7 separate regions of the Homo sapiens genome follow, and all the other regions are reported to be linked to region 3. The links are microRNA targets in miRTarBase. Many come from high-throughput screens and were not tested one by one. Region 3 holds a microRNA gene; each other region holds the end of a gene's coding sequence.

Evidence for each region. Region 3 holds the annotated microRNA hsa-miR-6499-3p (AGCAGUGUUUGUUUUGCCCACA, at 1,247-1,268, opposite strand). A microRNA usually pairs through its seed, bases 2 to 8, with sites in the 3' UTR of a target mRNA and lowers its output. Matches are read on the target gene's strand: a 7mer-m8 pairs with bases 2 to 8, a 7mer-A1 pairs with bases 2 to 7 and ends in A, and an 8mer does both.
Region 1: the mRNA of QPRT is a reported target of hsa-miR-6499-3p. Seed matches in the 3' UTR shown: 7mer-A1 at 992-998 and 7mer-m8 at 1,251-1,257.
Region 2: the mRNA of VENTX is a reported target of hsa-miR-6499-3p. Seed matches in the 3' UTR shown: 7mer-A1 at 2,217-2,223 and 7mer-A1 at 2,005-2,011.
Region 4: miRTarBase lists MMS22L as a target of hsa-miR-6499-3p. The part of its 3' UTR that is shown has no 7-base or 8-base seed match.
Region 5: the mRNA of FOXP4 is a reported target of hsa-miR-6499-3p. The part of its 3' UTR that is shown has no 7-base or 8-base seed match.
Region 6: the mRNA of MYCBP is a reported target of hsa-miR-6499-3p. The part of its 3' UTR that is shown has no 7-base or 8-base seed match.
Region 7: miRTarBase lists TNPO3 as a target of hsa-miR-6499-3p. The part of its 3' UTR that is shown has no 7-base or 8-base seed match.

What each region holds. Positions count from the first base shown.
Region 1 is chr16:29,696,952-29,700,092 of GRCh38, forward strand. It overlaps QPRT (quinolinate phosphoribosyltransferase), which reads left to right. Exons shown (of 4, transcript NM_014298.6): 3 at 45-176; 4 at 248-1,748. The coding sequence ends at 460. Among named protein-coding and RNA genes, the nearest start is that of QPRT, 19 kb to the left of the region's middle. RefSeq lists a silencer at 2,502-2,676.
Region 2 is chr10:133,239,713-133,242,839 of GRCh38, reverse strand. VENTX (VENT homeobox) reads right to left here. Exons shown (of 3, transcript NM_014468.4): 2 at 3,004-3,127; 3 at 912-2,908. The coding sequence ends at 2,534. Among named protein-coding and RNA genes, the nearest start is that of VENTX, 3.4 kb to the right of the region's middle.
Region 3 is chr5:151,520,842-151,523,982 of GRCh38, forward strand. It overlaps MIR6499 (microRNA 6499), which reads right to left and starts at 1,307; the gene lies at 1,246-1,307. It overlaps FAT2 (FAT atypical cadherin 2), which reads right to left. Exons shown (of 24, transcript NM_001447.3): 19 at 435-1,245. It also overlaps a transcript of SLC36A1 not described here. RefSeq lists an enhancer at 1,143-1,312.
Region 4 is chr6:97,144,054-97,147,194 of GRCh38, reverse strand. It overlaps MMS22L (MMS22 like, DNA repair protein), which reads left to right. Exons shown (of 25, transcript NM_001350599.2): 25 at 308-3,141. The coding sequence ends at 389. Among named protein-coding and RNA genes, the nearest start is that of MMS22L, 140 kb to the left of the region's middle.
Region 5 is chr6:41,598,431-41,601,430 of GRCh38, reverse strand. FOXP4 (forkhead box P4) reads right to left here. Exons shown (of 17, transcript NM_001012426.2): 17 at 1-2,642. The coding sequence ends at 2,495. It overlaps MIR4641 (microRNA 4641), which reads right to left and starts at 2,708; the gene lies at 2,643-2,708. RefSeq lists enhancers at 2,023-2,606, 2,607-3,000.
Region 6 is chr1:38,861,933-38,864,932 of GRCh38, reverse strand. MYCBP (MYC binding protein) reads left to right here. Exons shown (of 5, transcript NM_012333.5): 5 at 219-2,440. The coding sequence ends at 263. The region is part of intron 1 of RRAGC-DT (RRAGC divergent transcript); the gene reads right to left. GJA9-MYCBP (GJA9-MYCBP readthrough) reads left to right here. Exons shown (of 3, transcript NR_037637.1): 3 at 219-2,443. Among named protein-coding and RNA genes, the nearest start is that of RRAGC-DT, 3.5 kb to the right of the region's middle.
Region 7 is chr7:128,954,815-128,957,814 of GRCh38, reverse strand. It overlaps TNPO3 (transportin 3), which reads left to right. Exons shown (of 23, transcript NM_012470.4): 22 at 500-591; 23 at 2,430-3,000. The coding sequence ends at 560. Among named protein-coding and RNA genes, the nearest start is that of IRF5, 18 kb to the right of the region's middle.

The sequences.
Region 1 (3,141 bases), not on the chromosome of region 3:
TGCTGGGCCCAGTCCTCACCCTTGTCCTCCCGGCTGCCCAGCAGGCGGTGCGGGCGGCCAGACAGGCGGCTGACTTCACTCTGAAGGTGGAAGTGGAATGCAGCAGCCTGCAGGAGGCCGTGCAGGCAGCTGAGGCTGGTGCCGACCTTGTCCTGCTGGACAACTTCAAGCCAGAGGTAAGGTGGGCTCTGCCTCCGGGGAGGGATCTGTGGTGGGCTCTTACCTCCCCTTGGCTTGTGTCCCGCAGGAGCTGCACCCCACGGCCACCGTGCTGAAGGCCCAGTTCCCGAGTGTGGCTGTGGAAGCCAGTGGGGGCATCACCCTGGACAACCTCCCCCAGTTCTGCGGGCCGCACATAGACGTCATCTCCATGGGGATGCTGACCCAGGCGGCCCCAGCCCTTGATTTCTCCCTCAAGCTGTTTGCCAAAGAGGTGGCTCCAGTGCCCAAAATCCACTAGTCCTAAACCGGAAGAGGATGACACCGGCCATGGGTTAACGTGGCTCCTCAGGACCCTCTGGGTCACACATCTTTAGGGTCAGTGGCCAATGGGGCACATTTGGCACTAGCTTGAGCCCAACTCTGGCTCTGCCACCTGCTGCTCCTGTGACCTGTCAGGGCTGACTTCACCTCTGCTCATCTCAGTTTCCTAATCTGTAAAATGGGTCTAATAAAGGATCAACCACATGGGGTTCTGCGGTGATAATGAGCACATAGTGAGGGGTCAGCAAATGTCAGAAGTTACCTGGGACAGCCGGGCACGATGGCTCACACCTGTAATCCCAGCACTTTGGGAGGCTGAGGCGGGAAGATCACTTGAGTTCAGGAGTTTGAGACCAGCCTGGCCAACATGGTGAAACCCCATCTCTACCAAAAATAGAAGAATTAGCTGGGTGTGGTGGCACGCGCCTGTAATCCCAGCTACTTAGGAGGCTGAGGCAGGAGAATCGCTTGAACCCAGGAAGTGGAGGTTGCAGTGAGCTGATGGTGCCACTGCACTCCAGCCTGGGTGATAGAGCGAGACTCTGTCTCCAAAGAAGAAACAAAGGAAAGAAAGAGAGAAAGAGAGAGGGAGGGAGGGAGGGAGGGAAAGGAAGGATGGAAAGAAAGGAAGAAAGGCAGGCAAAAGCCCCAGACAGGCCAAAACCTTCATCCTTCATGCACCCAACCTGTACCAAACACCAGCATGGCCTGGCTGTGAGTGCACAGCAGATGGAGGTTTGCTGGGCAGAGACACTGGGCTGGCCTAGACACTGCCTTTGGTGATACCCTAAACCAAAGGGGCCAGTCCCACAGTAAGAAGGAGACCACTACTACTCCTGCTGCCCTCCTCCCCCCACCTTGCCTAGTTTACAAGACAGGAGGAAAGAGAGAAAGCAAAAAGTTAGAAAACAAAACAAAACAGAAGTAAGATAAATAGCCAGAAGACCTTGGCGACACCACCCGGCCCTGGTAGTTAAAAAAAAGTAACAATAATAATAATATCAACCCCTGACCTAAACTACTTGTGTTATCTGTAAATTCCAGACATTGTATGAAAAAGCATTGCAAAACTTTCTGCTCTGTTAGCTGATGCGTGTAGCCCCCAGTCACGTTCCCCGCTTGCTTGAGATATCATGACCCTTTCACGTGGACCCCTTAGAGTTGTAAGCCTTTAAAAAGGCCAAGAATTTCTTTTTCAGGGATCTCAGCTATTAAGATGCAAGTCTGCCAATGCTCCTGGCCAAATAAACCTCTTCCTTCTTTAATCCGGTGCCTGAGGAGTTTTGTCTGTGGCTCGTCCTGCTACAAGAGGACACAGCCCAGAGGTGCCACCTGCAGCTGCCCTGTCCCCTCTAATCCCAGCTCCACCCTGCCTGCTCCCGTCCTTCCTCCAGGGGGAACATGGACACGCTCAGATGAACCCCAGCTTCTTATGCCTGAACTGGGGAAACTGAAGCCCCATGGGACCAGGGGTTCCACTGGGCATCAAGGGAGGAAAGTTGAGCCCCGGGGTGATCTGGGAACTGGGATCTGGGATCTGGGCAGGCATTGGGGCCTGACAGAGCAGAAGTGAGGAGAGGGTACCAGGAGCTGCAAACTCGGTGCCTCCAGGACCTATTCGGATAAAATAAATGGGTGGAACTGGAATAAGACAAAGTGGGGGTGCGCTGTGGCCAACTGGAAAATGCTCGTTGCAGCCACAGCGTTCCATTAAAAAAGCGAAAGGAACCTGCCTGCCTGAGTCTTAAGCTCCCCCTAAACCCAGAAATGGGTTAGCCCTCCAGTATCCTCCAGCTCTGAGAGCTGGGGCGGGCACTCCATTACTGGGGGAACAGGAAATGGATCCTGGGCACTCTAGGGCAACACACGCCCTCCTTGCAGGGAAATGGATTTCCAGGCAGGGGAGATGCATGGGCAGAGGTGGCTTGGATTGTTTGCTGTAAGATTTGAAGCTGTGATCAGGAGGTGGCTAGGAGATGGGCTGGGTCCAGACCACAAAATGGTAGATCGGAGGATTTGGACTCTGTCTCATGAGTGAGCTGGAAATCAAGCTGGAAAATCAGATAAGCTTATTCGCAGCTTCAATCCAGTCCGTTGCAGAAGGATGCATTTGAGGGGGCTAGAGCAGCTGCAGGGAGGCCAGGAGGAGCTGTGGAAGAGGACTTGAGTGTGGGTCATGGCCATGGGGTTTGGAGAGAAGTGATACAGTGTCTTCAGAGCTTCAGAAGGCAGAGGGAGTTCGATGGCTCAAGGCAGTTGGAAGAGTTGGGTGTGACTGAGGGGGTGGGGAAATGGGGCATGCGTGGCAGGCAAGGACTCTTATGCATCACCTCCCAGTCCCTTGTCCATCTGGCTACACTTCCTCTTTGCCTGGCCAGCCTAGGACCAAGCTGGGATCATTTCCCCAGGATGCCCCACAGACAATGGCAAATGTGCCCATCATAGCAGTTTGTTTAATGAAAATGATATGCTGTTGTGAGTACGGGATGTGCCAGCAATGCTGGCTACTGCATGAGACGGGAGCTAGCAGGGAGCACCTTCATCCAGGGTGTGCAGGTCCCCTTCCCTCAGTTAATGCTCGTGGGGGCGGGCGTTAGCCTCTCCACTTACCGAAGAGGAGACTGAGGCTTTATAAAGTTAAGAGAGCTGCTTAGGGTC
Region 2 (3,127 bases), not on the chromosome of region 3:
TCGTGCCCAGCTGTGCTGAGACCTCCTCACAGCTGCAGCTTCTGACCGCCTTCCTCTGCCCGGGATGTGTAGGTGTCTCTGCCCCGCCGCCCTGCGCCCCCAGTCAGGTCAGGACCCCCAGTGCTTGTAAGATGTCCACATGGGGATGTTGAGTGGGGTGGGGCCAAGAGCACCTGGGGCACTGTGCTTGTGGGGGCAGCTGGGGGCATCCAGGAGCAGAGGACTTGCCAAACTCTGGGACTGACGTCCAGCTGTCAGCCAGAGGACCCCAGAAGAGAGTGGGAAACAGGCTGCGGGGATGTGAGGAAGGTCCCCAGGGGAGAGCGGAAACAGGCTGTGGGGATGTGAGGAAGGCCCCCAGGGGAGAGCGGAAACAGGCTGAGGCCAGCGGAGTGGTCACTGCATCCCGGCCAGCTGTGACGCAGCAGGTGGGTGGAGTAGGGCTTGGGGGCATCTTGGTCTTCAAGGTCCACCCAGATACCAGCAGCCCATGAGGCCTGGGCCAACTCACTCTGCAGCCCCGGATGGGGGACAGGGAGAGAAGTTTGGAAGTCGTGGGTGGCAGAGCCTTCCCTGGGCCTGAGGGCCTTGTGGATCCCCCAGAACTCAGGGTCTAGGTCCCTGCTGGACACTTGGAGCCCGCCCCACTCCTCAGCCTCCGGGACTTTGCCCTTTTCCAGAGCTCCTCATCTGCAGGATGGAGCCAGGGCCCTAAGGAGGCCCAGGTGTGCCTCCGAACAGGCACAGCTCAGCCCCAAGGGGCTGCCCACCTTGTAGGGCCCAGTGTGCTGGCAGGACCTCGAGACACCACCAGGCCAGGGCCCTTACTCACCGGGAGAGTTCAGGACCAAGACGGTGTGGTTTGTGGCCTGGGGCCACACAGGGGACCAGAAAGCAATCTCCACGGGCGGTGAGGGGCACTTGTACTTTTATCACGGACAACGTGCCCCCATCCACATCCACAAATCAGTGCTGTCCAGGCCAAACCCAGTAGTCCCTGTCCAGCTGCTGCCCTCCGAGGGCCTCGCCCAGGCTTCTGTCACATTGTCACTCGCCAGGACGATGTACAGCAGCTGTTCCCCTCTTACCTGACGTTTAAAAGCACATGCCAGTTGTAAACACTTACAACAAGGGAGAAACGAGCAAGGGGAAAGTGAAACTCGCTGGGGACGCAGCCGCAGGACCACGCTTCTGTTCCTGTTGGGGTGCCCGGGTGGGTTTCACAGGTCGCCTCCAGTTCTGCAGGCTGAACCCGTCTGCCTGGGCACCCCGCACTGCCTGCCTCCTGGGCACTCTGGGGCGACATGGAAGGAATTGCACTTGTCTCAGGTTTCATGCACGCAGTCAGGAGTCTGCACCAAGAACGGTCCATCAACGCGGGAGTCCTCCCCGGGAGGGGCTTCCGTGCCTCCCATTCTGGGCACTTCCAGACCTTCTGCAAGAAGTGCTGTCCTTGAGTCATTGTTTTGTCCCGAGGCTGCTGCGAGCAGGGGGACAGGTGAGCACGTGTTGGAGGGTGGGGACCTGCGGGACAGCTTCAGTCCAGGCACAGCCGCAGGTCCCGGCTGCCCTGCTTTCCCTGGCCCAAGAAGAGCAGCCCTCAGCAAGCTGTGGGTACAGTCCCGGCTCACGCACAGCCTAGAGCGCACTGCAGGGCCCCAGCATCCTCGCCTTCATGTTCACCTTTGTTCCCTCCTGCTTTCCAGCTTTGGAGTTCTTGTTAAGAGGGACTTGAACCACAACGCTATAAACACACCTGCATTCCCTGTTTTCTTTTGTACACACAAAGCTTACAACCTTTACTGTTTCCAACTGGAAAACCAGTTTTTCCAACCCCTTTTAAAAAACAAATGATCCTTTTATCGTACGCCGAAAGCCCTACCCATGACAAGCCCACTTCTGCATTTGACTCTGTTCACTGACCCTTCGTTTCCTTCCTAAACCGACTCTTTCGGTAACTTTCAGTGAAGAGGTGGCTTTAATAAATATATTCTCAGGGCCGGGTGCAGTGGCTCATGCCTGTAATCCCAGCACTTTGGGAGGCCGAGGCGGGCGGATCACAGGGTCAGGAGTTTGAGACCAGCCTGGCTAACATGGTGAAACCCCATTTCTACTAAAAATAGAAAAAATTAGCCGGGCGTGGTGGCGGGTGTCTGTAATCCCAGCTACTCGGGAGGCTGAGGCTGGAGAATCGCTTGAACCCAGGAGGCGGAGGTTGCAGTGAGCCGAGATTGCGTCATTGCACTCCAGCCTGGGTGACAGAGCAACACTCCGTCTCAAAAAAAAAAAAAAAAAAAAAAATATATATATATATACACACACATATGTATATATATATTTATATATACGTATATGTGTATTTACATATATACGTACATATATATATTTATATATATTCTCCAGTAATCTCCAGAACCTTTGTGTGGGTCAGGGTGAGAGGTGCCACCAGGATGTAAACAGAACAACTGAGTCCTCCAGGTAGGAGCCAGGTGCGATCAGCAAGACCGCGAGTGTGGGAGTCAGAGGTGCCTCCTCAAAATGCATCCCCCGTCTGTGGCATAGCACACAGGCCCCGGGGCCCCGTGGACAGGGCTGGTCCCAGCGAAGGCCGGCCTGGGGTAGGGGGGTGGGACGCCAGAGGCTGCCCGCAGCAGGAAGCTCCCGCAGATGCCAGGGCCTCTTGTGCCACTTGGCAGAGACCCCAGAAGGAGCCAGGGGGCAGCATCAGAGCCTGGGGCCCGGACAGGGGTGCCCAAGGGCACAGCAGCTGCAGGCCATTGGCAAGGCCAGAAGACGTTGAGTAGAAAGCTGGGGGCGCATGGAGAGACCCCGAGAAGGGGCTGTGCAGCTGGGGGTCCTGCATTTGCCGTTTGTGTTTCATGCGGCGATTCTGAAACCAGGTTTTTATCTGTAGGAAAAGCAAGATCAGAACAGGGGTGAGACTAGGCCACCAGCCCACCCTTGCCCACCCCTGCCCACCCCAGCCTGCCCGGCCCACCTCACCTGGACCTCTGAGAGCTGCATCTCCCTGGCCAGCCTCTTCCGCTCCAGAGGGCTCAGGTACTGGTGGTGCTGGAAGACGCCCTCCAAGGTGCGGACCTGCTCCATGGTGAAGGCTGTGCGGACA
Region 3 (3,141 bases):
TGACCACTTTCTATATGTCAGGCACTGTTCTAAGCAAGCACTTGATACATAGTACTGATGTAATTCCTACAGCAGCCCAGCTCAAAGGCACAGAGAGGTTAATTTTCCTAAAGTCGCCTGGTTAGTAAGGGGTAGAGCTGGGATTTTAACCCATGAAGACTGAAGCCACAGCCTATGCTCTTAGCCATGATGTTAAACCACATATTGTAGTCTTACTGTTATTTTCTAAATCTCGAAAGGGAGCTGAGAATTGGGTATTATTCCATAACTAGATTTTGTGAGGCCACTAGCCGTCTTATGGTGATTGGTGGCCTTTGGGCTTATTAAAACTTCCCTGAACTCTCCCACAGAGCCTCAGTGGAATCTCCATGCTTAGAGTCAGGCGGGCTGAGCCCAGCAGTGCTGCTCGTCCCTAGGGAAGATGTAGTACTTACCATTGCAGGAGCAGCTCCTCTGCAGGTGGTGCCGCGGGGTTAGGATGCTGAGCCTGGCGGTGCTGTACGTGGGCCCAACCTTGGGGTCCAGATGCACTGTGTTATGGCAGATTTGACCCTGGCAGGTTGGCCCCTGGCAGGGCACCATGGGCATAGCTGACCGCATCTGAACCCCCACTGAATGCTCCATCTCCTTGGCTGAGTGAGTGATGATGGATGCTAGCTCCTGAAACTCGTAGAAGGTTCCAGAATGCCCCTCAAAGACCAGGAGCACATCCACACCAGCCACGGCCTCTGCAGGCTGGAGGCTGGCCAAGTGAATGTTAGCCCGTTTGATGTCCAGCTTATGGCTGAGGAACCTCTGCAGGTTCCGCCAGTGGTCACTCACCAGCTCCTCGGGGGTGAGCTGGTAGAAGCCCATCCACATGGCCTGCTGCAGAGCCTCCTGCCCCACATGCCACACGTACACATGGACCCCAGCAGTCGTGGTGAAGGTCCCATCGCTGACCGTGACGTTGAACGAGTAGTGGCCACGAGGCAGGCCCTGGGCGGCGATAATCTTGCCATCAGGCGCACCCACTGAGAAGTGCCTGCCCAGGGTCTCCTCTTCTGCCAGGCTATAGGTCAGCGTGTCCTGGGGGTCTCGGTCTGTGGCATGGATCTTACCCACCATGCCACCCTGGAACTCATCCTCTCCAACAGTGATGAAGATCTCCAGTGGGAGAGCAGAAGGTGCATAGTGGCTCTGCTCTGTGACATGGACACGGACAGACGTCAAAGACGAGAGGGGAGGGATGCCACTGTCTGACGCCTGTGGGCAAAACAAACACTGCTGTCACCCAACAGAACTGCAGTGCTCTTGCGCCCGACTGAGGCTGGGCCTCCTTGTGGAGCTACGTTTCTCTGCCCCACGCCCAACTTGAGGGCTGGCTCAGCGCATTGTTGCATTTAGAAAAAAAAAACCTAACTCCAAAAGCACTGACAGAAAAGAAAGATTTTCTGAAGGTTTTGTAGAGATTGAAGGAGGGAGTTACATCCTATACCATGCAGTAAAACAATGCAGTTTCCTCATGTGACATCTCTCTGAGCCTCTTCCTAAATCTCTCCAGCCATAGACTTGGGCTAACTTCCTCATGAAGTTTCTCATTCTGTCCCTGTCCTCAAGGGCGCCCTCAGATGTCTCAGCAATTCTGATGCACCATGCACCCTGCTCAGCCTACGAAAATTCCCCTTGGGATTCCCTTTTGCTATGCGATTGGAGTGGGAGTCGGGATTTGTCCTTCTAGTCAGTCAACGAAGTCTTCTGCTGTGGCCAGGAGAAAAGAGACAATAAATAAGTTACCAAATAACTTGGATAAAATGCTGGGAAGGAAATAAACAGAGACCTAACTTTGATCAGGTAGAAGAGAAGGAGTCTCTGTGGAGTGACATTTGAGTCCTGAGGGATGAGAAGAAGAGGCGACAGACAGAGGGAGCAGCAAGTGTAAGGTCCTGGGGTAGGAATGAAGGCGGTGTGTTCAACAGCACAGACGGGGTCACTGGTGCTGGAGCAAGTGGGCAGGGAAGCAGGCCTGACCTCACTGATGGGCTGGCACGCGCAGGGTTGCAGTTAATGTCAGAACTGTGAAAAGCCGTGAGGGTGACAGGACCTCACTTAAGTAGGGAAAAGAATGTAAATCATAAACGCATTTTCCTTTCATGTTTCACCACACATCCCTGCAACTTCCTGCCTGACTTAGAAAGGACAGGCTTGCCTTCTTCTCCTCAGTGATGTTATCACTTCCTCAGCTGTCAACGAGGGTCTCCACAATTTTCCCTGTAGTAATATCTTGTTCACCTGCACTCCAACACTTTTAATGTACAAGAAAGTTGATAAGATTACACCTACTGCTGGAAGTCATGCATAACACCGAAGAGATATTAATAGCAACAATAATAATTAACACTACTGTTAATTATAATGTATAGCTAACATTAGTTACAACAATACTACTACTACCGATTATATATAATACATAGCTAACATTAACTGAGTACAATGCTAGTCATTATCATAGATAAACTATGATAATGCTGTAAATACATTATCCTAGTTTATCCTTCTTATGAGATAGGTACTATCAAGTCACCCATCCTACAAAAAATATAACTGAGGCTCAAAGAGGTGAAGTAACTTGCCCAAGGTCATACAGCAGCAGATAAGGCCTGAGCAGAATCTGAATACCTATCTGTGTCTATAGCCTGTGTTTTTCTTTGCTGGCCTATGGTGCCTCCCAGTGCATGGAAGTGGAAGTACGGGACCAATGCAATTGATGGTGATGATGCCAGTCATTACTAAGCTCCTGTCTAGGCAGGACGTGTGCCTGGGTCTGAGAATACAGAGGTCAGGAAGCCATTCTCTCTCATCTCTCCCTAGGCAATCACATCCATGCTCTTGGCTTTGAGGGCCATCTACCAATCCTCTGAGCTGCCAACTCCAATTCCCAGCTACCCACTGGACACCTCTGCTTGGATGTCTCACAAACAACTGGGAAATAATGTGCAAAACAGAGCTTCGGTTTAGCCCATAAACCTGTCCTGCCTTCCCGTCTGGGCCTTTCCAGTCTCATAAATGCACTACCACCGAAGTCTTCATGGGAGCCAACAATTTAGAAATCACCCCTGAATCGTCTCTGTTCTTTCTAACTGCACATCCACTCCACCAACT
Region 4 (3,141 bases), not on the chromosome of region 3:
TAATATTCCATGAATGCATTTTATTACCCGTGAGCATTATAATATTTCGGAAGGTTAATGAACTTTTACATGTCATTTTTAGCACACATTTTATATATAAAAATCATACTTTAATACATCTTAACATCTAGGTTTACTCACAATAGATATAAAGCATTACTTTTTAAGAAGTGTTGTGCTAAGCCTGCTGGATGGATGGCTGAATAGATGGATGGATGGATGATGGGCAGACTTAATTTGTAAATACTGAAATGAAAAATAATGAAAATGTTAATATATTTGCTTTCTTTTCTTTTTTCTTAAACAGGGAAGCCTATAGCAAACTTTTGTCTCACCTTGGACAGATGGGACAAGATGAGATGCAGAGACTGGAAAATGATAATACTTAATATATTTTGTGATTCATCCTGTCTATTAATTATCAGTATCTAAAGCCACATTGTTCCACTCTAATTCCTACTTTTAATTAATTGTATAATGTTCTGTTTAAAATAATTTCTAGGATTTTTTTTCCTTTTATATCTGTAAGTAAAAAATGTATAAATAAGGAACTGAAGGTTAATTAGCAACTGTGTAATAGGATCCTTGGAACTTTTTACAAAACTGCATTCTACCTTGATGAAATTTTAGTTAAACTAAATTAAAGAAACATTTTCTGAGAGTGTTTTCTGTGTGTGAGTATTAAGCAGATACTTCATCCATAGACTTTTTGTTGTAGTATGACTTCCTGCCTCCCTGCCTTGTGACTGATTTGTCATGTTTATTTTTTATTTTTACAATAATAGTTATGTTTTAAAATGATACTTTTTCAAAGTACCTGGCTACCCTATACTGTGTTTTTGGTGGGGGAAAGGTGTTGGGAAATGTGACTGTGTATTTGTTTTTCTTTTTTATATGTGTGAGGCAAGTTAACAAAGAAAACCCTTACAAAGCACACTTAACTGTGTTAGGAATGAGACTGAATCTGGCTAAAGGATTATACAGCTGATATCCAAAAAGAAGTGTAAACATGCCAACAGGGTTTATATTTAGGTTCCAAGAGTTGCCAAATTTTTTTTTTATTCATCCTTTCTTTTGGAGTTGTCATTAAAAAAAAAATCATATCAGGAGGAGGAAATAAAGGAGACTTTAAGAGGAGAGTAAATAAAAATATTCTAGAAAAGTAACAATAGTAGTGGTCTGAGAAGTCAGCTGATCCATCTTCTTGCTCTTTAGCCAGAGCTTCTTATAACTTAGCATTTTATCCAAGAAACCTGTTTAGTTTCCTTTAACAACATTGTTTCTCAACTTTTGAACTCTTAACTCATCCAGATTGTTTTACCAGTTGGAGCTTGTCCTTGACTCCTTTTCCTATTGAGCATTATTTGGTTGAAAGAGCTCCAGTCCTAGTTTTGGGAACCCACCTGGGTCTCAAACTCAGCTTTGCTTTATGATCTTGAGCTAGTTACGTAACCTTTCTCAGTCTAGTTTCTTCATGGAGAAGAAAAGAAGAATCCCTTTACTATTTGACAGTGTTGTTGTGAGAATCAATGGGATAATGTACGTGAAAATATTTGGTGGCCCAAATTCTGTTGGGAAATGTACAGACACGATTAGTTTATTACTCGTGCACAATTAAGGCAAAGAACACCTCTCAATTTTATCTTTCTCTAATGATATGTCCCAGATGAATGATCCCACTTTCCAATGTTTTCTTACATCATGTTTTCTAACTTTGAAGTACTTTGTTTCCTTCTTGGGATTATAGTCTTTATCATGGTTCTACTCTTCCTTCAAGAAAACATTTCAACCCTTCTCTGGCTCAAGGAGTATCTTTAAAAATGAAATACTTTGCAATCAGTATTCTGTAGTTAATAGCGTTCTCTTAATTATAATCTGTGAAATCCAAAGGAGTGTCTGTTATTTTCATAACATATAAATGGTCCTTCTCTCAAATCAGCTTCATCAAAGGGAATAAATGAAAGCTTAAGGCTGTTTAATAGACTTCATAACACTGAATTTCTTTTCATCATGATAGTGACTTACTAAACAAATAATGTATGGCTTGGAAAGTTCCAGCAGTCACTAAGGAGTTTTATCTATTTAAGGTGATGCCTTTAAAGAGGTTATTTATGTGTATATGTGTTTTTGTGTGTGTGTGTGTGTGTGTGTGTGTGTGTGTGTGTGTGTGGGTTTTTTTTTTCCAAAGGAGATTGATAAAGATACCTTTGAGAATCTTGCTCCTTAGAGTATGAAAACGTTTAAAGGATAGGAAAAGCTGCTACTGAATCATGCTTTAGGACATATATCTATAGATACTAAGAATAACTAAAATTTGTACTTAAGAATGGTAACAACAAAGTGTGTAACAATATGTGTGTGTATTATATGTTTTGTATTTATGTATAAGTAACTTTTTTTAAAGCTTTTTTTTAAATTGAAAAAAGAAGAAAATTTATGGCTCAGTTCCTTTTTTTTAAAATCTTCACTGATCCTTCACTTATTACTACAATCTTGCCCTCTTTCATTCCCAGACTTGGAGTCCCTTATACCTGCTTCTTTAATAGCCACTTTCCCTAAATACCCTGTAATTTCTGAGGCTGCTGCTTCTACCAGTGTAATACAAGCCATTGTCTTTTGGTCAAATCTGAGTTTGTTCTCCTTTCTCATGTTCTTTGTCCTCTCTGTGACAATTGTATTTTCTTTTATCTTCCCATCATTTCCACAATGGTACTGCTCCTTCCTACATATACAGTTGACCCTTGAGCAACACAAGTTTGAACTGTGCAGGTCCACTTATATGTGGATCTAAAATACAGTATTTGTGGGATGCAAAATCTGAGTATATGGAGGACCAACTTTTTGTAGAGGCAGGTTCCTCAGGGTTAACTGCAGGACTTGAGTAAGTGCAGATTATGGTATGCACAGGGGATCCTGGAACCAGTCCCCAGACCAAAAATGACCACTGTATCTTGAGAGCACCTTCATGGTCTTCTTTCCTGTCCCCAGTCGTAAGATACGACCCTTCATCTGCTTTGTCTCAACATTCTGTTAGTGGTGAACTGATAACTCCAGCTTTTCTCTCTCTTTTTTTTTTTTTTTTTTTTTTTGTTGTTGTTGTTGTTGTTGTTTTGAGGCAGAGTCTTGCTCTGTCGCCCAGGC
Region 5 (3,000 bases), not on the chromosome of region 3:
GTCTGAGGCGGCGGGAGGGGCTCTGTGTTGAGGAGGGGCAGCAGGTGGGGAACCAGGACTTAACACGGGATAAGAGGTGCAGGCTGGTGTGCTGGGGCTGGGGGAGGTGTCAGGGGCCATCTTTGGCTTAGCAGCTTGGCCCTTGGCCTCTTTCCTTGCAGCCTATCCAGGGTCCCCTTTGTATAGGTTGAATGATCCCGTTTCCGCCGTGAGCCCACTATGATGACCATGGTCACCACACAGTGTGCCACGTGGGTGTGCACGCACACTAATGGTCCTACTGCTTCAGGATGCCACCACCACACCTGGGCACTACACACACACACGCCTATCCAGGCAGCCCCCTTGAAGACGTGGACAATGGGCCTGGAAGGACACCTGGGAATGGGTGTGGATGTCTCCAGAGCTGGTGGCACAGGTAAAAGAACCCTGCGGCGGTGGTCCTCTCCATCCCTGCAGCAAATCAGCTGCCTTGCTCCAACACTCTGGCAAGAACTTGGATTTCAAACTAGTGAAAGAACTAGGGCAAAGGATTGGGACTCTGGAAGAAAACAGGAAAATGACAGAGAACCCTGTTTAAGCGTGGAAGGGACAGGAGGCACAGGGGAACCGGAGGTGGGTGGGCCCTGTCCACAGTGAGGGCACATGCCCAGCGCCCCTGCAGGGCTGCTCATTCCATCCACTCACAGAAACCACCACCACAGCGACCCTCACGTTGCTGCTGCTCTGCCCAGGCTCCCCGAGCAGAGCGATCTTTCAGCTTTAATGCTCCTCCCCTCCCGCACCTCGGTGACACACACAGGGCCCGGTGAATAGAGGACGTTTAATATTTCTGTGCTGGTCAAACGGAACACAGGTGGGGAATACATGGGGAGGGGGCGGAGGGCCCCCTGCCTCTCAGGAGGGGTGGCTTGTGAGGGGTGTATGTGGGGGGTTCTTGGGAAATATCCAAGGAGTCTTCTCAGTAAAGGGGCCAGGCCAGGGGTGTTATGAGCATCCGATACGCCCAGTCCTTGGCCTTGAGTTGGGGGTCCCCCATAGGGGGTCTGTGGAGAGTCTGACTTTTTTCCAGCTCTTTTGCTAGAATCCACACTCCCAGCACGACGGGTGACTTGGTCCTAGAGAGGGGTCTGGAGAGCCCCCAGGAAGCAGCCCAGGGTCAGGGAGAAGGGCTCCCGTGCCCACTCCTGAGGGGGTGAGAGCCCGCTTTCTCCCCTCCTTTCTCCTTCCCCCAGGCTGGGCAGGAGCGGAAGGGAGGGGGGCAGGGCCCTGCCTCCACTGAGCCCCAGGGTCCTCAGGGTGGATGGAGGAGGGGTGGAGAGAGAAGGTCTTGGCCACCAACAGACACTGTAAACTTTGGTTTAAAACAATAACTTAAGTGGAGGGAGGGCTTCCAGCCTGGGGCCGGGGTGGGAGACTGGGAGGGCAGGTGCTGGGGAGGCGACAAAGGAAAAAGCCAACAAAAAGTTTTGGTTTTTGCTTCCGGCATAAGAAAGGTCTTTGGTCATCCGTTTAACTGGTGGGGCGGCGGGGGGAGAGGCGGGCAAGGAAGGGGAGCTGAGGGTGACTGCAGAGGAAGGGGAGCTGAGGGAGGGTGAGAGGACTGCAGAGAGGCCTGCAGGCTGGATGTGGGTGTGGAGCCGGGGTCCAGCCTGGCCTTCCCCTGGGCTCCCGGCCCAGGCCCCGCCTCTGGCCTCAGGGAGAGCTTGGCTCCACCTGCAGAAGCGCACCTGGCACAGACCTCTGTGGGTGAGGCGGTACCAGGCCTCTTCCCATGGGGGCGGCTGGAGGAGCCCCCAGCAAACGGGGGTGGGGGTGGAGGCCTGGCTCAGCCTGGTTCTGTCTCAGGTTGGGGGCGGGTCTGGAGCCAGGTGGGCCTGCTCACACGGACCCCCACAGGGCACACAGACAGTCCCACCCCAGCAGCAGAGGGGGCTGTTTCTTCTGGGGATGGAGGCACAGTTCCTCCACCCAGGCCAGGGCAGGGTGGGAGCTGGGGTGGAGAGTTCTTTCTTCACAGTACGGAAAAGAAGGCGGAAGGGAGCACGAGTTAGGAAAGTGGGGGCCTCTGGCCAGAAAACACGGCCAGAGCCAGGTGCCAGGGGGCCCTGGGTTTGAGGGGTGGCTAAGCCCCGCCTGCGGGTCTCCATGATGCTGAGGGGCCCTGTGGGGAGAGCTGGTGGGGGAGGAGGGCCCTGCTGCTGCTGGTGGTTGGGGGGAGGCAGTTTCAGATGTGGGGAGGGTCTGAGGAGGGGTCTGAACCCTCCGTGTCCTCTACTGGTCCAAGACCAGGGGTTGTGTCCCTGGGGGTGGGGACCGTCCCTGCCCCTACGTGTTTTTGTCAGGTCACACTGGGAGCTGCTGGCCCGGGCCTCCCCGGTCTGAGTCCTGGACTTGCCTTGAGGCTCGGGAGGGGCTGTGGAGTTGGGGGAGATGGGGCCTGGATTCTGGAAGGGAGGGGTCTCACCCCAGCCCTGCCGGTCACTACAGGCCCTTAGGACAGTTCTTCTCCCGGCAGCTCCTCCTCCAGGTCCCTGTCTTCCGGAGGCCCCGAGGCGCTGGGGTTAGGGGCGCCCAGGGGAGGCCCGGGCTGCCTGTCTTCCTCTGCCTCTGCTGGCTCCTCCTTCACCTGCACCTGGTGGCTGAGGCAAAAGTATGGCATGGGCACCAGGCGGCTGTCCTCTGATGCCCTCTGCCCCCTGCCCCCCAAACTCACCCAGAACTCTGGGGCACAGTGGGGTGCCCACAGCCCCCTCCCCAGGATCCCATCAGACCTGAGGGCTGATCTCCCCTAGGGCTCTCTTCAAAGAAAAGCTGGTCCTGGGGCAGAGACTGCTCTGGGTTGGGGAGGAGAGAAGAGGGGAGCAGAGGGGAGATGAGCGAACGGAGGAAGGAGAAGAAAGATAGAAGAGAGGCCAGGCGAGGTGGCTCACACATGTAATCCCAGCATTTTGGGAGGGCGAGGCCAGTGGATCACCTGAAATCAGGAGGTCGAGACCA
Region 6 (3,000 bases), not on the chromosome of region 3:
CAAAGCAATTTTAAAGGTTTATATAAAAAGGGCTTTCATTAGATTTGATTGTATTAAATCTTAAATCACTGAATGATTTAAAATGGATAGTTATAGAAACTGATATTAATACAATTTACTGACAGTAACTAAGTTGAATATAACAGTTACCTTGTTTTACTATTTTTTACTCAATTTAGAATAAAATTCACCTAAATTCCTCTGTCTTTGCCCCATAGCTTGCTCAGTATGAACCACCTCAGGAGGAGAAGCGTGCTGAATAGGATTCTTCTCAGTTTGAAAGACAATGAAAAATGGTTTTGTATGACTTGAATAGTTTGTATAGTATATAATCTTTTCTGAACAGATGCTATAGAACTCTTTTAATATGTTTAATTCACCTATCACACTCTGTTAAAAACACATAGAATCATCAATAAAAACTCAATATAACTTTCTTTGGGTCTTAAAGCAGGAGAATCCAAAGTAAATCCTGAACAAAACCTAAACACAGCCATCTAACTCATTACCTTAAAAGACATTCTGTTTATTAGTCTGATTAGGAATGATGGCACTGGTTGTATTTTAGCCAAGACAGTTTAGCATGGAGCTATTCCTTGGTGCAGTTCAGGATATGAACACAGGTACAGTCATTCTTTGAAGGTGACACTGTTCTGTATATTCCCTATAGGCAGCTGGAGAGATCTGTGTGACACAAGATGCTTTTGTACGGGTTCCCATGAATCTTCTGCTCTTGTTTGTGTGACATGGAACAAATAACTTCTTTGCCACCACTTTGCCTTAGATAACTGTGTGTGTGTGTGCCAGTTTGAACTCTGACACCACATTTTCCTTCTATGCAATCATGCCTGTCTGATAATCTTGCATTGCTTTCCTCTGAGCTTTAGTGGGTCCTAGTTGCACACTGGCCTTTCTGTGCTGTTTTTCAATTTGCCTAATAATAGCAGTTACCCTGATTGTAATTTATGTAACTTTAAACAGGATCACACTGTACCCCCTGCCTGCCTTATTTGCTTACTGAGCACAGGACAGAGGCAATATACAACTCTGGGTTCACACACAAGCTGAGATGAGAAGAGGAATGAGCCATATATTGGGGAAAATCATAGTTTGTAGGTATAATTATATAGTGCTTTTCTCCCTCAAAGTATTTTTCTAGCCTTGAATTCATTTTATCTTCATTATCCCTGTGAAGTAGGTGGGACAAGTATAAGGGGAAGAGGGGTGCTGAATTTTTAGGCCAAAGACTGATATTAATACAAATCACTCACTAACTGTAGAGCCTTGGGCATTATCAGTGAACTACTCTGAGATTTACTGTCTTCATCTGTTTAATGAGTAGAATGTCCGTGATGCCTACCTCACAGGGTTGTTGTGAGGGTCAAATGAGAATGTATGTGAAAGATTTGTAAATGGTAAAGCACTATATTCTTGTTTGTTAGTCCTTTTTCCTTTCTTTGGGTAGACCTACAGTCAGATGTTTTGTTTTATGGATCACTTATTTTCCTTACTGGTAGACTGTCGTTTTATAGACATATTCCTATTTCATATATTCTCTCCCTGTTGTTAGAGAACCTATCTTTGTTTTTGGTCAAAACACACATAGAAAACAAAATGATCCAATGAAAACTGGTTTAACTAGCAAAAGCCTTGGCACCTGTTGGAGACTATGACCAAGCCAATAAAAAGGGCATTTAAATCAGCCCTGTTAGTAGGAATGTGGCTATGGCTGGTGCCTCTTCTAGTCACAAGTTTGTTTTTGGAGGGGGTCCAGAAGATCATTCCCTTGCATAGATTTCTCTTTTACCAATTTGAGTGCCTCCTACATGGGCAGCAGTGGACTAAGTGCTGGGTGTGATAAAGAGGAATGACTTAATTATGAGACTGTATATAATCAAATACAGTGTGGGTTAGGACCTGTGGCAGACCATTATAATAAAGCATGGCCCCGTGAGGGTTTTGAAAGAGAGAGAGACTTGGCTTCCTTAGTTGGTATGATAGTTTCTTGGTAGATACAGGTTGAAAATTTTTTGTGGCAGCCAATCCTCATGGGCTTTTTACTCATTTGATTAGTATTAATATTTATGTCAGTAAGCCAGGTGACTGTGACTGTCTTTGGTACCATCCTTTTTGAACAGAAAGGCAACATGTGGGTTGGATAATCACACTTTTAGGTGAAACTGACTTGCTTAAACTGTAACAGTCAGTGCTATTTAAGAATTCAGGATAAGCTTAGCCTCTAGAGGTCCTCTTCAACATTTCTGTCAAGGATTTGGATGAATACAACAAGATGCTCCATGGAAGAGAAAATGGATAAATGGATCCCACCAGTTAAGCTCCTATTATGCTTCAGCTGCTTTGTCTATAAAATATCGACTTCACATCTTGCCTATCTCACAAGTTGGTTGTAAGAATCAAATTAAATATAATGGATGTAAAAGTGCCTTGCAAACTGTAAAGGATTACATACAGACCAGATGGTGGTAGTGCCAAATCTGTAAGTGACACAAATTGGAAAGTCTGGTTGGAAGACTATATTGAAACAAGCTTTAAAATGATTAACCACGTGGAATACCCAAACTGCTGGGCCTAAACCAAAAAGTTGAAGTATCAAGTCTTACATTTAGGTTAAAAAATGCAGTTATACACATTTAGGCACTAGGATTGCTGACAAAGTATTAGTTACAGTGATTATCAATGTGACCCACCCTATGGATGCTTAAAAAAAATTACATTCTGGAAAGCAGGAATAGAAATACTGTCTAGGTGTTAAATGGTCATTCTGAAAGTTGTACTGTTTAGTATTGCTTTGTAGGAGTCAGATGTTTGATGGATATTGACAAGCTGGAATGCATATAAAGAGTGACCAATAGAGGATTTGAATATATAAGGCTGGGCTCTCCGATTTGGTACACACTAGCTGCAAGTGGCAGTTAAAAATTTAAGTTCCTGGTGGGGTGCCGTGGCTCACACCTGTAATCTCAGCATTTTGGGAGGCCA
Region 7 (3,000 bases), not on the chromosome of region 3:
TAGACCGGCCTTTGTAAACAAAATCTATCTTTGGAAGAGAATGAGGAAACTTATGAGAGCCGTAGCAACCAAGTGTTGTTGTAGCAGCCTACATTTATTGAATACTATTTTGTTCACTGCTCTATTTTCATAAGCACTCTGTATGTGGACGATTTTAATCCTCTAAACAGTGTTATGAAGTAGATAATATTAATAGATGAGGAAACTGAGACAAAGATTGGTAACTTGTTCAAGGGCACAGTGGAGCCAAGATTCAAACTCGGGCAGTTTGTGTCCAGAGTACACCCTTTGAAGACCACCAAGCTTATAACTTTTCTCATATATAATAATTTTTGCCCTGAATTACAGAAAGATCTGAAGCCAGGATCGCTCAGGAGACGATGGAGAGAGCTCCTAGCAGAGTTGGGACGGTTCTCAGTGTGCCCCAATGTTGCAGTTGTTTTTCAGCATATTCTGTCTTTCTCCTCAGTCAAGGACCAACCTACCTTTTCTTTTCTAGTGCTGAGGAATGTAAACAAGTTTGCTGGGCCTTGCGAGACTTCACCAGGTTGTTTCGATAGCTCACACTCCTGCACTGTGCCTGTCACCCAGGTGAGGATACATAGTTCCCAGCTTTTGTCCGGACTGTCGGACTGTTGGGGATGCCTGGGAATGGGGATAGGTTTTAATGCCTATCATGGGACCAGTCTTATAGCTAGAGTCAGGGAAGGACTCAGCAGTTTAACTGTGGTGAACAGCTGGAATATACAGGGCCCGGATTTTCTTGGGCCTGGGCAGCCAGTAATTGTCAGTGTCTTTGGGGTACCATTTTCACCTCCATAAGAAAGTAACTGTTACACAGTGCATTGAAACATTTTCTTCCCCCTTCCCCTTACAGACACTTCTAAGATGGTAAGTGTACATGGCAACAAACAAATAAGTATTTTTAACCTGGCCACTTTGGCGAAAACAACCTCAAGTTGACTGTTATATGTGGTGCCAGTCTCCTAAAACTGACCCTCCAGATGTAATGAGCAAAGAGCTTATTCTTATCACTTTTATGACCTGAATGCTGAAGTGCCAGGTTTTGACCAGGGCAGGAGGTATGAATTGAATATCCCTTATCCGAAATGCTTGGGATTTCGGAGGAAAAAACACTTTCAGAAGTGTTTTTCAATTTTGGATTTTTTGGGATTTTGGAATATTTGCAGAATGCACACCAGTTGAGCATTCCTAATCCAAAAATCCAAAATCCAAAATGCTCCAATGCTCATTCGCTTGAGGGTCATATCAGCGTTCAAAAAGTTTCAGCTGTTAGGGATGCTTGGCCCTTACAGGAGAGGAGGAGCATCTTTGGCTCCCGATGAGCACTTTTCTCCACGTGCTTTCCGTCTCCTGGTTCTGAAGCAAAGCAAGAAGCTTAGCTGAAAGGAGTGGGTAGTAGAATTTGGGTGCCAGTTTCTTGATGGAGAGAAGAAAGGTAGCTCTCCTCTAAGCCCACCCTTTGATGTCTCAAGGTGAGTTTCTTCTCCCAGGAGGCAATTCTTGATGAATCTGTAGCACTCACTGGTAGTTTCTGTGTTAAATGCATTCATAGGTAAAAGTGATGTTCAGCAGTGCCTTGCCACACCCAAAATCATTTCTCAACTTTGATTGTTTTAATGAGTAATAATATCATTTGGGATGTCCTGGTTTTGCATGGTGTCTGGGTTAGCTGACATTGATACACCTCATAAGGTTGCTCATGGACAGCTGTAGGTGTTCATGGTTAACTTTTATTGTGCCCTTACTGTGTGTCAGGGCACTGTTTTAAGTGTTTTAGATGTATTAACTAAGATAATCCTCATCTGCTTTTCTGGATTTGTTACTATTTTTCCCATTTTACAAATGAGGAAATTGAGGTTCAACAATGTTTAACAATTTGCCTGACAGTTATTCGTGGAGCCAGAATTCACATGTAGATATTCTGGTACCAGAGTCCTCACTTTGAACCACTCCGCTTAATACAGTATCCTTTCGATAGCATCTAAATTGGTGTTTTGTTTTGTTTTGTTTTCAACTGTTATTAGTAGGCAAAGCCTTCTTTCAAAATAAAATCGACATGAAGCCTGTGGGATTTAGCAGACTGAGGCAAAGCTTCCCTGGTTGCTTTGGAATGGGAGGCCTGGACCTGCTGGCTCTTTGCCCTCCTGACACATCATCCCTTGTTTCCACAGCACACTCAGCATTGGAAGCACACTGCAGACGGTGTCTCATTAAAGCAGTAGCTCCCTTGAACCCACAAGTTAAAACGCCAGACTTTTATTTATTTGTTTATTTTTTCTGAGTTCTTATTGGCAGACTTCAGAATGAGGTACCTGAGGAAATATAGAAACCTCTGCCTTAAGGTTGATTTTACTAAATGCTCTATTTTCTGGTGCAGTTATTGACTGTCTTATCTCTTTTGTCAGGAATGTCTTTTTTAATTAGAAGACAGGAAGAAAACAAAAACCAGACTGTGTCCCACAATCAGAAACCTCCGTTGTGGCAGAGGGGCCTTCACCGCCACCAGGGTGTCCCGCCAGACAGGGAGAGACTCCAGCCTTCTGAGGCCATCCTGAGGAGTTCCTGTTTGGGGGTGTGAGGGAAAATCAGCGCGGATTTTAAAAAGATGGCTGTGGCCTGCCCGGCGTGGTGGGAGGGGAGCTGGTTTCCTGGTGAACTTTCTAAAAGGAAAAATAATTTTAAGTAAAGAAAAAAGAAAAAAAAGGAAGACTAAACAGAAACCAGAACTGAAACATTCACCTGGTAGCAAATGACACATGCACGCACACACACATACACGCACAAGCGCCAGTGCGCACGTGTACACAGAAAAACAAAAGGACAAGCTTTCTGTGAAACAAAATATTTACTTAGGGATAATGTGGGGATTCACATGAATTAAATAGCTGCAATTGGAAGAAGAGGGTCAGGGTCATTTGTTCAGGTTTTCTATTGTTTTGTCCTCTCTTTCCTCTCCTACCCTTCCTTCTCTTTCTC